3 separate regions of the Homo sapiens genome follow, and regions 1 and 2 are each linked to region 3. Evidence: fine-mapped QTL for protein levels in blood plasma. A gene starts in region 3. Each other region holds a variant in brackets. All regions are shown on one strand. Distances are from middle to middle.

Region 1 (2,716 bases), 31 kb before region 3:
CTGTGAGTTCAGGTCACCCTTGAAGGTGACTAATTAGGTCACTGGCTGTGTGGAGGCCTCTGTTCATCACTGGTGGTCAGCTCACCCCTGCTGCCTCCAGAAAGTACCTCAAGGACCTGTGGGTTAACAGCTTGGAATAAAAGCATTTATTTAACATCATCTCCATTTCATTGTAAAGAATCTTGTTTTAGGCTGGGCTTGGTAGCTAACACCTGCAATCCTAGCATTTTGGGAGGCTGAGGCAGGTGGATTGCTTGAGGCTAGGAGTTTGAGACCAGTCTGGCCAATATGTGGAAACCCTGACTCCACAAAAAAATACAAAAAATTAGCTGGGTGTGGTGGTGCATGCCTGTAGTCCCAGCTACTTGGGAGGCTGAGGTGGGAGGATTGCTGGAGTCCGGGAGGTTGAAGCTGCAGTGAACCGAGATGGTGCCACTGCACTCCAGCCTGGGTGACAGAGTGAAACCCTGTCTCAAAAAAAAGAAAAAAATCTTGTTTTAAAAAGTCCGTCCATTTTCCCACTGACTCTTTCTGAGCACTTAACATATGCTGAGTGCTCACCATGCACTGGGCTCTGTGCTATACATGTGTTTCCCTTCAGAAAACACTGCTACAGAGGAATGAAAAAGTCCCTTAAATTAAAAAAGAAAATGGCTGCCATTCTGGCATCACAAGAATTGTTATGAATTGCCTATGTGTTTAAGTGGTTGGGGATGGGAAGAGTGTACATAGCATTACTAAATTTTGAAAAATGTGGTGTGGATACATTTCAAGGAATGTTCTTTGCTCAGGGTGAATTTATGTTCTTTATTCATCCATTTAAGAGAAATGTTTTGAGTGCCTACATTGCATGACACTCCTGTGGTCTAATACTGTTGAACAGTGATAATGATAATTGTAGCCTCTAATATATCTGGCATTGCACCAGATGCTTTACGTGTTTTCTCTTTTAATCCTCACAACGATTCATTGTTTAGGTGAAAAACCAGGCTCAGAGAAATAATTAACTTGCTTTAAGGTAATACAAGTAATAGGTGACAATTTCAGATTCGCAGTTTATTGTACTCAAATCTTGGTCTTTCTCTTAAACCACACAGTCTGCCTAACTAGGTAATCTTAAGCCCAGAAGAACACGTGGCTGCCATGCCCTTTGCACAGTCCTGATAAAGGGCAAAAACGAAGAGTTTTTCCATATTTAATTATGCAAATCATTCCAAAGCTTGGTGGGGTCCTTTACAAACTCAGAATTATCTATCTCCCTTTTCAATCTGCAAGCCCTCTTTTCAACAATTTATCCTAAACACTATGACTAACAAGGCCTCCATCCAGCTTCTAAACTGAAAAGTGGGGCTGATTGCTCTTAGTCCTAGGAAGCAGGGCTCACTCTGCTCAAACAGC[C/T]TAAGGCAGGCTTTCTAATTCTGAGTCTGTTGCTCCGGGTCGTTTGTTTAGAACAATTGGGTATAGAGTCCCTCAACACAAATCTGGGTGATCAACTTGAGGGTCTGGGTGATACCAGGGCCTGGGTGATATTTTGATTCCTGCAATTGTCAAAAGAGGTCATAGATTGTTTTAGAAGGAAATTAGAAAATTGGTGGCCTGTGGGTTTACCAAATGTCTGTAATTACTGCAGCCAGGTCTTATTTATCTGTGTAGCAACAAACACAGATAAACAAGATCTTATGATCAGGCATTCAAACTACTCTTTTAGAAGGCTATTAATTGATGCTGAGCAAAACTTAGACTTGGTCTTATGAAGACCAAATGATTCCACCAGGTTCAGTCTCTGATTTCACACCAGGACAGTGGGGGCAAATTTGCTCCCCAAGGGAATACTTGGCAATGTCTGCAACTTCTTTTGGTTAGGGTGGGGTGCTAATGGCATCTAGTGGGTAGACTAAACATCTAGAATGCAAAGGACAGACCCTGAAACAAAGAAATATCTGGCCCTAGATGTCAATAGCGCATAGATGGAACAACAGCATTCTAAGAGGAAACCACTATGATTTGCATGTGGAGGGAAAGCTCTTGCACAAGGAGTCCTGCCCTGACAATAGTTCTCCAAGCTGGGGACCTCAGCATCTTTCAGCAGAGGAGAAGAAACCCAAGTTGTGGATCATTAAGCTACTTATTTTTGATGACAGTAGCAAAGTTGCATGAGTATATTTATTTTATTTTATTTTGGGGGGAGGATACTCATTTTAAATTAATGCAATGACATAATATTTCAGTTTTTCATGATTCTGGGTAATCCACATAACCGAAAAATTTACTAAAAAGTGAATTTACTGAAAACTGAATTGAGCATTTTAACTACTCAGATATATTTATTTCATACTAATCTTGGATGGCACTCTTCCTTTACTGTATTAATTCCTGCTTTCTTAAACAGGGAACATAGAACTAATTTTCTTGTTGAGCTGAAGTCATCATTTGGAGCATTGAGCACCCCTGTTATTTCGTTTTGCACTTTGGGGAGCATGGCCCTGCTAAATGACAACCCATGTTCTTTGAGTTCTTGAGCCTTTCATTTTCTTTATTTTTCTTAAGCATATTTGTTATCATGTCATCCAGCTATTTATTCTCATTGGTGGAATGAGTTTCATTCTAAGTAGTATATACTCGTTTCCCTTTCTAATTTGCTGCTTCTAGAAAATTGGTAACTAAGCTAGTTTAAAGTGTATCTAAAGTAAAAATAAGTAATGTGTGCAAACTGAGT
Region 2 (2,766 bases), 15 kb before region 3:
ACCTCCTCCACTGCAAGAGATCTTTAGGTCTTTGGTTCAGGACCTATCCCAGTGGCATCGTAATCCTTTGCCAGGCCTGTTCACCCACTGTAGAGGAGTAAAAGCTGCTTTATGGAAGCGATTTTGAAGAACTAGAGGAGGTTTCTGCTCCATCATACAGTGACAGGTGACTTTGAGCTCTGAATTTACTATCGGTCCTTACTTTAAAAAGAAAAACGTTAAGCTTTTGGGGCTTTGTATCCCTAGAGATACTGTGTGCCACTGGGCATCTGTGGAGTAAGCTGTCTGATTGCAGAGAATAAGCATGACCTGTGAAGCTGTCCTTGCAAGCATCAAACTGTAGAGAGATCAATCACTTGAGGGAGCCAACCTTCACATGTTGACACTTCTGGATCCCCTTGCCCAAGGCAGAAATGCCTGGCTCATTTTCAGATTAAAAAAACCTGGGCCGGTTGTGTTATCAACACCCAGTGTAAGTCATCAGGGCAAATGACAATATACACATTCTCCTAGTCAATTGGAAGGCTAGGTCAGGAGATATTCGGCATGAGCCCAGGGATAGGGAAAGAAACAAAACATCAGAGGCTGGAATTCCAAATGGATCCAGAAAACAGCACAATCTTTTTTTTTAATTTTTTAATTTTTTAATATTTTATTTTTTCTGTCTATAACTATGTACTAGACTCTGACCCATGAGAGGATTGGTTTCTCCCAGAGAAAGACTACAGGAAACTAGGTTCCCAAATAGGCCCTGCAGCCTTGGATATGATGAGAAGTTACCAGAAGTTGGGGAGAAGGAGAACAGCACTGGGATGGGAGTCATTAGGCCTAAGCTTAAGACTTGGCATTCCCACAGAGTAGGTGGGTGACTTTGGGCCAGTCAGTGCCGGCTCTATGGTTCTGTTTCCTTTTCTGCCAAAAGAAGGATGTGGGGGGTTGGATAACCTGAAAGATCCCTCTTGGCGGGAACATCCTCCTAAGTCATTCATTCATTCTTGTCTATATGCCAGCGCTGCCTTCCAGGCTTGTGTGTGACCCTCAAGCTTACCTGAAGCTAGAGCACTTCCTAGGTGCCTCTCCCACCCCAGGAGTCATGAGGGTTTGGTCGGCTGCCAGACTCACCAGCAGGAATAT[G/A]GGCACCTCTTGCTGTAGCGACAACAGTAAAACTGCCACTCCCGATCCAGCACTGACTCGAAGTAGCGGCTCTGGAATCCTGCCACCAGCCCATTGTTGGAGCACGTCTGGTACCTGAAGAGAAGACAACCCCAGGAACCTAAGAACAGTGACACATACACAGACCCCTTCCCAAGACCCCACTGCCACAGTTACACACTCTTTCTCTGACCTAGATTCTTAACAATTTATTCCATTTTATGCAAATAATAGTCTTTATTATATTTGTAGAAATAACATAGCCCCTCCATTAAAATTTAAGTGACTCAGAATTTTCTAACTGAACAAAATTTAGGGAACACTGCCCCTGTCATACCTCTTTCAATATATATTGTTAGATGGAAGCCTGCATAAATGGGTGGATCTAGAATTTTACATCTAGAATTTTACAAATTCGAGATTGTATTATTCATGCCATTTAAAATAAAAGGTATTATAATTCATTTTACTGGAATTTAAAATAAAAAGAAGACAAAGAGAAGCACAACGTATTGATGAATTTCAAATAAACATTTCTTCTGCCTAAGAGAAGAGCCCTGGAAATTGAGCACAAGGATGATCATTCGTTCTGCCCCTGCACAGCATGCAAAGCCCAGATGGGCATGGTGAATGTGCCCAGGGCAGCCCAGTAGGAAAGCTGGGACCACAACCCAGATTCTTCCTACTTATCCAGGAATCTTTCTACCACCCACAAGACCATAAGCTCTACACAGCCATGGCATGTTTTTCTCAGAATTCTATTCCTGGTGGCCACCAAGAATCCTGGCTGTGGAGGCAGTCCTTACAGAGTTGCAACAGGCCAACTGAATGCCTCAAACCCCCTCTAAAGATCCCTTTCCTGTCCTAGCTGCTTAGTCCTAATTCTTCAAATATATAACCGCTCCACTCCAGTCCACAGACAAGAAATAATTTTTGCTCTTTCATTCTACCTGTGCTGCTGCTGGTCTTCACAGCACCTTTTGAACTAAACATTGACTTAGAATAGTACAATCATTTCTTCCTTTGTTCCATCTCTAGTATGATTTTCTCCCATTCCTGGGCCCAATTCCTATGGCGTCTTCAGGCTTCCCACTTTTTGCTGTGATGATAACACTATTTTCTACCTGACCACAGTGGATTTCCACTGTTCTTGCTACTTATCCAGGAATCTTTCCACCACCCACAAGACCATAAGCTCTACACAGTCAGGGCATTTCCACTGTTCTTGCTACTTATCCAGGATCTAGAATTTTACATCTAGAATTTTACAAATTCAAGATTGTATTATGCATGTCATTTAAAATAAAAGATATTATAATTCATTTTACTGGAATTTAAAATAAAAAGAAGACAAAGAGAAGCACAATGTATTGACGAATTTCAAATAAACATTTCTTCTGCTTAACAGCAGAGCCCTGGAAATTGAGCACAAGGATGATCATTTGTTCTGCCCCCACACAGCATGCAAAGCCCAGATGGGTATGGTGAGCCATGGCCCTTTGATGAAATCCAGTGGATTTCCACCTTATAGCATGAGCTCTTTCACAAACCCTTCCAAAATAGTTCTTCAGTTACCTCTCCTTCTTTGCATTTCCCACCATCCCAGCCATTGGT
Region 3 (2,766 bases):
TGAGACCCAGCTGAGACAATCACACCCCACAAAAAAGTACAAGCTCGAAAAAATTCCATGCCACTGCTTAAGGCAGAATGCAGTCAGGGGAAGACAGCACCTCTCTCCAAAACCCTTTAGTAAACTATTTTCCAGCAATAAAACCCACTTTAAATTCAGGCAGAGAGAAGGACCTCAGTACTCATAATTGAGAGAGCACATTTAATCAAGGCAGTAGACAGCTATTTAATTCCACTTTCTTTTGCCTAAATGTCCTTGTCCCCTCTTTTCCATTCACTTGCTCTAAATCAATAGTTCTCAAACCCTCCGTGCTGAGAGATCAATTGTTTATTTTTCTTGTTCCCAAACTACTGTGGGCCAGTACTTTTGTAAAATGGTAAAAATAAATTTCTAAAAAAGAAAAATGCCATTCCGATGGCACAGAAAGTTTTAATTTCTATAAAGTTTATTACTTTCAGTTTCTGTACATATCTTTTGGTAGTCTGGTAAGCAAGCTTCTCGCCGACCTACACCAGCCCCTGGCCCAAACTGAGAGTAGGTAGAACAGCTTCTGGAAGGAACAGAGCCACAGAGGAGTCTGTCTCCCACAGACACTCCCCATCCCAGGTTTTTGTCCTGTCATGTAGTCCGCTCAGCAGCAGCCCTGCTCCACCCAGAGCATGCAGTGGTGAGGTTTGGGGTGGGATTTGCCCAGGCTTTGGTTACTGATATTCCTTGAGAGTCTAGCAGCCCCCAGGAGGAGGGATATGCAGAGATGTTCCCAGCCCCAGTGCAGTGCAGGGACTGGCCCTTACCATTCCATGCCAGCCCTGTTGATCTCCTCCCACCAGCACTCCGTGGGTTCCCCGAGGCTCTGTGGCGTGGGCATGCAGGCGTAGTTCCATTGTCTGTCAGAACCTTCCTTCTTGCTGAAGATGCTCCTCACGGCCACTATCACCTGCCCCTGGGGACACTGGTAGCTGAAGCCTTGCCGGTTCAAATTCACCCACCCATCATCGCTGTAGTCATGATACTGCTGGTATGGGTATCCATAATCGCCATACTGGCCCCAGGCCATGGTGACTAGGGGCAGAAGTACCCAGAGAAGACTGAGGTCCATGCTGCCTGGGATTTTGGCAAACAATGTCACTCTAAGATTGCTGGTCTGACCGTTTTATATAGCTGCCGCTGACATGTGGCTTCCAGATGTGGGTGAGAAGGATCCAACTGCAGTGTGTCATTGCTTAAGCAAAACTTTTCCATGCTGAGATGTCAGCCATAAGGACATTCAGCTTGTTTTAAGGTGGAATTCTAGGAATATACCAGCAGCATGTAAGTCTAAGAAGCTCCCTGGAGAAAGAACAACTTTGTATCTAGATTATAAAAGCCAACTGCTGCTCTACCCTGTAGAAATATTCACTTGAAAAACACTGATTAGTAGCATATTTGTCCCTCACCTTTCAGCACCTCACCCCTTTCTGTCCTACCCTACCCGCTACTAGCAAACCCCTGTATTTGTTCTCCAAACTAGCCTTCCGGGCCACACAAATACCCAGACAGTGATTTCAAAATACCGAAATCATAGACTGAAGTAACAGAGCCATCTAGGATTTCTGTAAGGCTGAATGCCTGTTTTTTTTTTTAAGTTGTCAATCCAACACTTTTTAACCCTTGAGTATAAGCGCGGGTATACCAGTTTGCAGGGCTACTCTGAGAACTCATAAGTTGCATAAGGAAGTACTATGGGCCCATGGGGAGATAAGTTGGATATGATTTCTACACTTAAGCATTCTACCATGCTGCTGAAATTGGACCCAGTCAAGTCTAGAAAGTGTGCTCTGCTCTCAAAATGTAATGGGTTTAATCTAAATAAACCCCCTATTTATCCTTCAGTATTTTTGCCCTCACATTGAATTTTCTTTTCATTGAGTTATAATTTACATATAATTAATTCACCTTTTAAAATACATAATGTACAGTAACATAGCCAGCACCCTAATCAAGACTTAGAACAGTTCCATCAATCCAAAACATCCCCTTATATCCCTTTGCAGTCAAATCTTCCCAAACACCCAGCCATTGGTAACCACTGATTTACTTTCTGTCTCTATGGTTTTGCCTTTTCCAGAATGTCAAGTAAATGGAATCATACCACACGTAGCCTTTCATGTCCATCTTTCACTTAGCATAATGCTTTTAAGGTTCATCCATTTTAAAATTCAACATCTCATTGTATGTGTTAGTATTTTGTTTCTTGTTATTGTTGAGTAATATTCCATAGCATGGATGTACCACAGATTGTTTATACATTTACTAGTTGAAAGACATTTGGGTTGTTTCCAGTTTTTGAAAATTCATTACTTTTTATGTAATGAATTTTATATTCATTATATTTTATATAATGAATTACATAAATGTAATTATAAAGTTGATATAAACATCTATGTATAGGTTTTTGTGTGAACAAATTTTTATTTCATTTGGGTCAATACCTAGGAGTGAGATTGCTGGTTCACAAGGTAATGTATGTTTAACTTTAAAAGAAACTACTGAGGCCGGGTGTGGTGGCTCATGCTTGTAATCCCAGCACTTTAGGAGGCCGAGGCGGGCGGATCACGAGGTCAGGAGATCGAGACCATCCTGGCTAACATGGTGAAACCCCGCCTCTACTAAAAATACAAAAAATTAGCCAGGCTTAGTGGCGGGCGCCTGTAGTCCCAGCTACTCGGGAGGCTGAGACAGGAGAATGGCGTGAACCCGAGAAGCGGAGCTTGCAGTGAGCCGAGA

Alleles and levels. Alleles are on the strand shown, and positions count from the first base shown. The strength of an association depends on the size of the effect and on how common the allele is.
For the plasma level of the protein whose gene starts at base 1,131 in region 3, C is the high allele of the variant in region 1 and T is the other (moderate association).
With allele A in place of G in region 2, the plasma level of the protein whose gene starts at base 1,131 in region 3 is lower (moderate association).

What was found. PIP is the posterior inclusion probability: the model's chance that the variant is causal. The UK Biobank Pharma Proteomics Project read protein levels with antibody pairs (Olink). The fine-mapping took linkage between variants from a reference panel, not from the people measured, so its PIPs are less certain.
Region 1: its variant is fine-mapped to the plasma level of the DPT protein (UK Biobank, PIP 0.98).
Region 2: its variant is fine-mapped to the plasma level of the DPT protein (UK Biobank, PIP above 0.99). The variant lies in the coding sequence of DPT. If it changes the protein, the assay may bind it differently, which can mimic a change of level.

What each region holds. Positions count from the first base shown.
Region 1 is chr1:168,696,790-168,699,505 of GRCh38, forward strand. All of the region lies in intron 3 of DPT (dermatopontin), which reads right to left. Among named protein-coding and RNA genes, the nearest start is that of DPT, 31 kb to the right of the region's middle. The variant C/T (reference allele first, on the strand shown) is at 1,399.
Region 2 is chr1:168,713,099-168,715,864 of GRCh38, forward strand. DPT (dermatopontin) reads right to left here. Exons shown (of 4, transcript NM_001937.5): 2 at 1,123-1,248. Among named protein-coding and RNA genes, the nearest start is that of DPT, 15 kb to the right of the region's middle. The variant G/A (reference allele first, on the strand shown) is at 1,135.
Region 3 is chr1:168,728,076-168,730,841 of GRCh38, forward strand. It overlaps DPT (dermatopontin), which reads right to left and starts at 1,131. Exons shown (of 4, transcript NM_001937.5): 1 at 795-1,131. The coding sequence starts at 1,099.